Linked DNA regions of Homo sapiens. The protein of the gene in region 1 purifies or fractionates together with the protein of each later gene. This does not show direct contact. Each region holds a gene or a part of one and is shown in the gene's direction. Other genes may lie near its edges. The genes, in order: KIAA1671 and ABLIM2.

Region 1 (3,811 bases):
GACCTGGAGTATGTATTTTCCAATCCCTCTGTCCTTGCCTGAGGCTGTTTGTGGGGTCATGAACATTCAGACTTTTCCATCCTGGCTGGCACCATGCACAGCAGAAGAAAGAAAATCTGGCTTCCTTTGTTCAGTGAAGAACAGAGAGAAAGAGAAGAATGGATGGCAGGGTGGGGGGTGGGGAGGAAAGGAGGAAGGGATCACTTTAATTACAAGCACACCCTTTTGGGGGTACATAAGCAGAATAGCTGTGAAGAAACCCTCACCCAAATAAGCCACTTTGTTTTTAACACACACACACAAATTCAAATCTACCCAAATATCTATCAGTGAGGCTCTAGGGTGTTGGCAGAGGGCCCCTTCTCTTGATCTTTGGCATATACCTGAGTGTTGGGCAGAGTGCTGACACTACCTACTGCTGTGTGATCATCTTCCTGTACAGATGGGGGGAAAAAAACAGAGGCTCAGAGAGGTGAAATAACTTGTCCCAGGTCACACAGCAGTAAGTAACAAAACTGGTATTTGAACCCAAATCTGGCCTTAATTACCCAACTGGGCCATATTCTAGGAGACCATTCTGGTGAAGAACCACGAAGGTGGGGAAGAAATCTGAGGCATAAGGACCACCCTTTGAAGCTTCTGATCTCTGTGGGGAGATGGGCCATTGTGATCCAAGACTGGGGAGTGATGGGGTGCAGAGGGAGGCACTGGAGAGGTGGCCCAAGGTGTCCTGGAGGAGTCGGTGGTCTCAGCCCAAGCTTGAGGGTTGGCCATGCTTTTGGGTGGGCTGATGAGGGGAGGTGAGGGCATTCTCAGCAGGGCACAGCATGGACAAAGGTTTGGAGGTGGGAAGAGCGTAGAATGTTGTGGGGGACATGTGGAAATGGACTTAGCACCGCCCTGTGTGATGTGGCATCAGCAAATCAGGCCACAGATTCTTCCTTTGCCACTTGCAGCTGAGTGATACAGGGCAAAACCTTTCACCTCCCTGCACCCGAGTTTTCTTGTCTGTAAAAGGGACTAGGTGGCCAGTCTGGAAGTGGATGCTGCAGAAAGGAAACTCTAGGATACAGTCAGTAATGATCATGCGGTGAGGATTTGCCTTCAGTTAAGAGTGGGTAAGTGATGGAGTCAGGCTTTGAACCCATGTCTGTTCCCAAGAGGCCAAGCTCTCCAACCACCATGTGCAGGATCACGCAGACTTGGCATCTGAATCTCCACGCTGCTACTTGCCTGCTGTGTGTAAAGCAGCCTCTTGGCCTCTCCTGGCCTCAGTTGCCATGCCAGAGTTAACAGGGATTCCTGCCCCAAAGCACTGTTATTAGACTGAATTGAAATAAAGCACCGAACTTGGGCCATCCCCGTGTGCTTCCTGAGAAGGGTTTCATCTGTCCCTACCTGCAGGCTGATGTTGTGGTAACAGTGGAAGAAGGAAGAGGCCAAGGAAATGCGACACTTATGTTTGCCAGCACCTTGCTCAGGGCCCGCTGGTGGTGGGGGAGTCGGGATGTTGTGGAGGGGGGATCCTGGGCTCAGCTCTGTCCCGCAGCCCAGCCTTGGATGCCTGCCTGGAGCACGCAGGCCCCAGCAGTGCTGGTTGTCAGGGGATCTGTTTTCTCACCACGGGATTGGGAAGCCTTGGACCAGCTTCCCGTTTCTCTCTTGTCTCCTGCCAAAAGATCTTTGGTTCTTTGATCTTAAAAAAAAAAATAAAAACACACCAATACAGAAGGAAAAAATGTTGGTTGTTAAAATTTTGAACCTTACAGGGGTATAGAAAATAAAAGGTGAGTGTTCCCCCAGAGGCAGCCACCATTACATTGTTTATGTCCTTTCGGACTTTCCTATATTGACAGTCACTTATCAATCATATATATATGCATAATTGTCATGCTTTTCATATTGCAACAGTAGCGAATGCTTGCGTAAAATGTGAAATACTGGCTGGGCACGGTGGCTCATGCCTGTAATCCCAGCACTTTGGGAGGCCGAGGCGGGTGGATCACGAGGTCAGGAGATTGAGACCATCCTGGCTAACACGGTGAAACCCTGTCTCTACTAAAACTACAAAAAAATTAGCCGGGCACAGTGGCGGGCGCCTGTAGTCCCAGCTACTCCGGAGGCTGAGGCAGGAGAATGGCGTGAACCCGGGAGGCGGAGCTTTCAGTGAGCCAAGATCACGCCACTGCACTCCAGCCTGGGCGACAGAGAGAGACTCCGTCTCAAAGAAAAAAAAAAATTTTGAAATACTATAGAAAAATGGTGTAGAGAGAAAATCTCCTTTAAATATTGAGCGTGGTGCATAAACTGGGGAACACCCCTCTAGGCCCATTAGTGGTTTTTAACTATGGGCAATTTTGCCCCTGGGGCACATTTGGCAGTGTCTGGAGACATATTTTGTTGTTGTCACACCCTGGGAAGAGGTTGCTATTAGCGTCTCATGGGTAGAAGCCAAGCATGCTGCCCAACATCCTACAAGGCACAAGACAGCCCCCACTGCAAAGAATGCTCCAGCCCCAAGTGTTTGCAGTTTGTAGGTTGAGGAACCCTGGTCTAGACACAGACATAGATAAAGGTAAATGCATAGACTTAGATATAGGTAAATACATAAGCTTTCTATGGAAAACTACAACAGTCTATAGAAAATCTTGTGGCTTACTTTTGTTTTTTGAGATGGAGTTTTGCTCTTGTGGCCCAGGCTGGAGTGCAGTGGCAGGATCTTGGCTCACTGCAACCCCCGCCTCCCGGGTTCAAGTGATTCTCCTGCCTCAGCCTCCTGAGTAGCTGGGACTACAGGTGCACACCACCATTCCTGGCTAATTTTTTGTATTTTTAGTAGAGATGGGGTTTCACCATGTTAACCAGGCTGGTTTTGAACTCCTGGCCTCAAGCAGTCTACCTGTCTTGGCCTCCCAAACTGCTAGAATTACAGGCGTGAGCCACTGCACCCGGCCTCCCCTTCCTCTTTTTAATGGTTGCGAAGTATTGTATTATGTGACTGAGCCCAATCTATTTTAACCTAGACTCTCATTGATGGGTATTTGGGTGGATTTGAATTTTTGTGTGTGTTAGAAACAGGGTTGTGCCGGGTGCAGTGGCTCACATCTGTAATCCCAACACTTTGGGAGGCCGAGGCTGGCAGATCACTTGAGGTCAGGAGTTTGAGACCAGCCTGGCCAACATGGTGAAACTCCATCTCTACTAAAAATACAAAAATTAGCCGGGCTTGGTGGCGGGTGCCTGTAGACCCAGCTACTTAGGAGGCTGAGGCAGGAGAATTGCTTGAACCCAGGAAGCGGAGATTGTAGTGAGCGGAGATCGTGCCACTGCACTCCAGCTTGGGCAACAGAGCGAGACTCTGTCTCAAGAGAAAAAAAAAGAAGAAGAAAAAGAAACAAGGTTGGTTCCTTGGGTGAGGGTTTCTTGATTTACAGCCCAAAAGGGTGTGATGGTCATTAAAGTGATTCCTTCCTCTCTCCATCCCTTCCTCTCTCCATCCCTTCCTCTCTTTTTCTCTGTTCTTCACTTAACAGACATTTATAGAAACTGTTTCCCAGACCCAACAGTATTTCATTTATTTAAATTATTTATTTTAGTTTTAAGAGAGAGACGATTTCACATGGCTCCACTCCAAAAATACTTAAAAAACATTCCCCTGATACCTGCCATGCTTACATTTCTTCCACCCGGTAATCACTTTTATTCCTTTTTTTTAAATTCCTTTTTTTCTTTTGAGGCTTCTTTATGAAAATACAAGCACATAGAAATACATATTTTTATTTTTGCTTCACTTTTCCATAATAAAGAGCAC
Region 2 (3,811 bases), on another chromosome or scaffold:
GCTGGGATTTGAACCCCAGTGTGCCCGACTCAGCCGCAACACGCGTATCCCTGGCTAGGCGGGCGCTGTCTGCCTATCCCCTGCCTGCGTGCTTTAGCCGGTGGCTGTGGGGGATTGGTTGCTGCCTCATAACGCGTGGCTGAGTGTTGGTGTGGATAAAGCCTGGCCCGTTTGGGGGCATCATGATGGCGCTTCTTGGTGAGGGTCTCACACAGCCCATCTTCTCGCCTGGGCCGTGGTGTGTTATTCCCATTTTCCAGCTGCGGGACCTGCCAGCACAGAGCCAGGAGGCAGGACAAGACCCAAACCCGCCTCCTATGGGGGTTCCTGCCTAGCGTCATTGCATGGCCTCTGTGACTCACCCTCAGATAGCCTGGGCCTGAGAAGGACTTTCACCACATTGAGCCCATGTGCCCCCCTGGAACCCTGACCCTCTGCTCCGACTCCCCCACCCCCACCCCAAGTCCTGCAATCCCCCCAGGGCCCATCTGTTCCACTGAAGGCAGTGCCTCTCCCCCTGCTTACACAGCCCAGCCCAGCAGCGTCTCCAGCCCCTCGCCTGGACCTCTGTGACCTTGGACAAGTCATCGTCCCTCTGTGCCTCAGTGTACCCATCTGTAAAAACAGGGCCACTGCCATCCTCGGGGTACAACCCTGCTTTCTTCTGACACCACCGCCCCACCCCGCCCACTGTTTGGGTGTGAGGCCTGGCTGCCATTTTAGGGACCCTGCTGCGCCCACCTTTCTCATCTGGCTCTCGAGATGCTCCCAGCTGGGTGAGCAGTACTTGGGCCTCACGCTGAGGGTCTCTGGCGTGGAGGGAGGTGCCTTGCCGCCTGTGGATTAGCAGCTTCTGTGGATGTCTGCCTGGAGCTCGAGCTAGGAGGGCAGCTGGGTCCCTCGCGTCTGTGGGAAGGACTGGGGCGGAGGAGGGGGCTTTGGATTCTGGGACGCTCACTGGTCCTTGTGGGTGCCAGGGCTGGCTCTGGGGCTTCTCGCCATCAGCAGCTTCCAGGCCTACAACAAACAGGTCTGCTGCGGATAACGAGCTGGGTGGCTTCATGTCACTTCCCTTGGCTGAACATTTCCAAATGTGAGGGGGCCAGTCTGGGTGCCTCAGAAGATGCACTGGCTTTGGGGCTGGGCACACCTGGGCTCCAGCCCCAATCGTCACTTGCTAGTTGTGTGTTTCTCCAAGCGGATTGTTTAAATGCCCTTTGCCTTAGTTTCCCCACATAAAAAGTACAGGTGATGACAGCTGCTTTTGAGGGGTTACTGTAGACTCAGAGATGCTGAGTGAGAGTCAAGGGCCTGGGCACGGCAGGCACCAGGGAACGGGCAGAATGGCCTTTGTCACAGCTGTAAATACCCTTCACAGCTCAGGGACAAACCTGACGTCGTGCCCCGTGGGAGCCGCTTTGGCATCATCAGCCACACCCTAGGCTGGGTTCATAGCTTCCCCTCCCCTTCTCTGGTCCTGCTGTCTCCCCTGCCAGCCCCATCTCAGTCCTGGTTACAAGGCTGCAGCCCAGTGCCAGGAGAAGCACCGTCTCCAGAGAGCCACCCAGCTCCCGGTTTTCTCGGCACAGCATCCTCAGGAGGCGTGGTGTCTTGAGTCATCGGTCTCAGCTCGAAGCTTCATTTTAGCTGCATTCTACTGAGCAGCCCCCATCCCAGGCAGCAGCAGTGGCTCCTCCCGCCTCCGGCACGGAGCTCGCACCCTGTGCTGGAAGTTTGGGACTTTGGTTTCTCTGTGCTTAGAGAGACGAGTTAGAGAGACGATCTGGAAATGTGAGTCCAGCCAGCGCACCAAGAAAAGTGCTCAGTGTCACTGCGGCTAGCATGCTGCCTCTGTCCTCGCTGGCGTCTGTCCTCAGGGCACGATGGGGCCTTGTACTGGCTCCCCTGAAAGCCACTCAGGTAGAATGAGAGGAGGCATTTCGTGAACACCCAAGGAGTGGAGGATGTGTGATGGGTGGAACTCCGTCCCCAGTTCAGCATGGCCTCCTCATCTGTCTGCCGTCATTCCATAAGACAGCCTGGCCTGTCTCTCTGACCCTCTGCTTCTGCAGACCTCAGTGTCCCCGGGATCGCACATGGAAAATGACATCAGTTGATGCTGCAGCTGGACACGAAGTGCCCAGAAGGAAGAATTCCAAGGAGCATCCAGACCTTCAACCTGGCAGCCTAGTTTCAAATGCCCTCATGATGTTCCAACCCCTTTGCCCCACAACTCTCTCCATTTAGGCTCCCTGAGTAGGTGCAGTGGGAACTTGGGTGCAGGTGGTTTACCTAGGAGGTGACCCCAGGAAGCACGAGGGAGGTGTGAGGAGGGTAAGGGGGGAAGGGAGGGGAAGCCAGGAGGGGGCATTTGGATGGGGGCCACCACTCTGGCAAGTGGGGACTCAGTCCCACTGGGAGCCTCTGAATCGTCCCACAGAGGGACCGGCTGTGTGGGGTCTTACTCCATAGGCCCCGTCCTGTCTGGGCGCAGGGCCAGTCCTGAGTGTGAGGTGCTGGGGAAGTCTCAGCCTAGGTCCGGGCCTTCTCTGTGTCCAGCAGTCAACAGCCTCCCAAGGGCTCAGAGCTCTTCCAGAATGTCCCTTCTGTCCCTCCACGACTATTTATTAAGCACCTACTATGTGCTGTCTTTGCCCTGATCCCCCAACAGCCTTGCATTCTTCCTGCCGCCTTCTGCCTGCCCCCGCTCCCCTGGAGTCCCTCCTCCTCTCCCTTTCAAGGCTCTGCCGGACTCCAGGGCCTCTGTGAAGCTTTCTTCCCATCTCTAGGCCCTCTGCTTCCCTCCTTCCTCTGAACCTGTGGACACAGACCAAGCTGGGGTTTCCTGTGGAGATTTGTGCCTGCTCCTGCCTGCTCTGCAGCCTGGAGCTGGGACCTGCCCTCTCTGAAATACCTCCTCTTGGATGGTGTTGGGGGGCTGAACAGTGGACTCAAAGGTGCCCATGTCCTAATCCCAGGCCCTGTGACTATGTGACCTCATGCGGCAAAATGACTGTTCATATGCGACTATGTGAAGGATTTTGCCACAGGGAGACTGCTCTGGATTTCAGGGGGCCTGAGGCTTCTCGCTAACGGGAGGCAGGAGGCAGCAGAGAGGAGAGAGAAGTCTCCACGCCTGGCTCTGAGGATGAAGGGAGGGGCCCCACACCAAGAAACTCGGGTGCCCCTAGAAGCTGGAAGAGGCACGGAAGTGGATCTCCCCCGGAGCCTCCAGATGGCCCCAGCCCTACAGACCCCTTCACACTCTGGCTGGATCTGCCCTGGTATCTGGGGACCCCAGATCTCAGCGTGGCCTGACTCTCCGTAGTGTCTGGGGACCCTGGGCCTTGGCACAGCTGGACTCTCCCTGGTGCCTCCAGATCCCGGGTCCTGGCGTGGCCTGATCTCCCGGGTGCCTGCGGAGCCCAGGTTTCTTGGTACATCAGCAGCTCTGGGAGGAGATAGGGGTGGTCTCATGGAGAGGTGGGGGTCCAGGAACCAGCCCAGGCCATGTACCCCCTGAGCCTTGGCCTCCTCATCTCTGTTGGGGTTGGGCTTGTCCTAGAGGATCTTTCCGACTCTGAGTTCCTGTGTGGTTTGGGGCAATGGACACCTTGGGATGTAGCATTTGCTTCCAGGCAAGCAGGACTCTGCTGTGCATGCCCACGGGGGAACGGCTTACGCGCTTCCCCAGTGTGGACCCAGCACCGCGATGTGCTTTCACCCTATAATCCTTACATCAGAGCTCCTTGCTCGGGACTACCAGTATTCCCACTTCACAGGTGAGCAAACGGAGGCCCAGGGAATTAGG

The links.
Region 2: the proteins of KIAA1671 (region 1) and ABLIM2 purify together in Homo sapiens (co-immunoprecipitation; one large-scale study listed by IntAct). This does not show direct contact.

The regions. Positions count from the first base shown.
Region 1 is NC_000022.11:25,042,937-25,046,747, forward strand, and holds part of KIAA1671 (uncharacterized protein KIAA1671), read left to right. Parts: intron 1-3,811.
Region 2 is NC_000004.12:8,148,503-8,152,313, reverse strand, and holds part of ABLIM2 (actin-binding LIM protein 2), read left to right. Parts: intron 1-3,811. UniProt on the Homo sapiens protein: May act as scaffold protein. May stimulate ABRA activity and ABRA-dependent SRF transcriptional activity.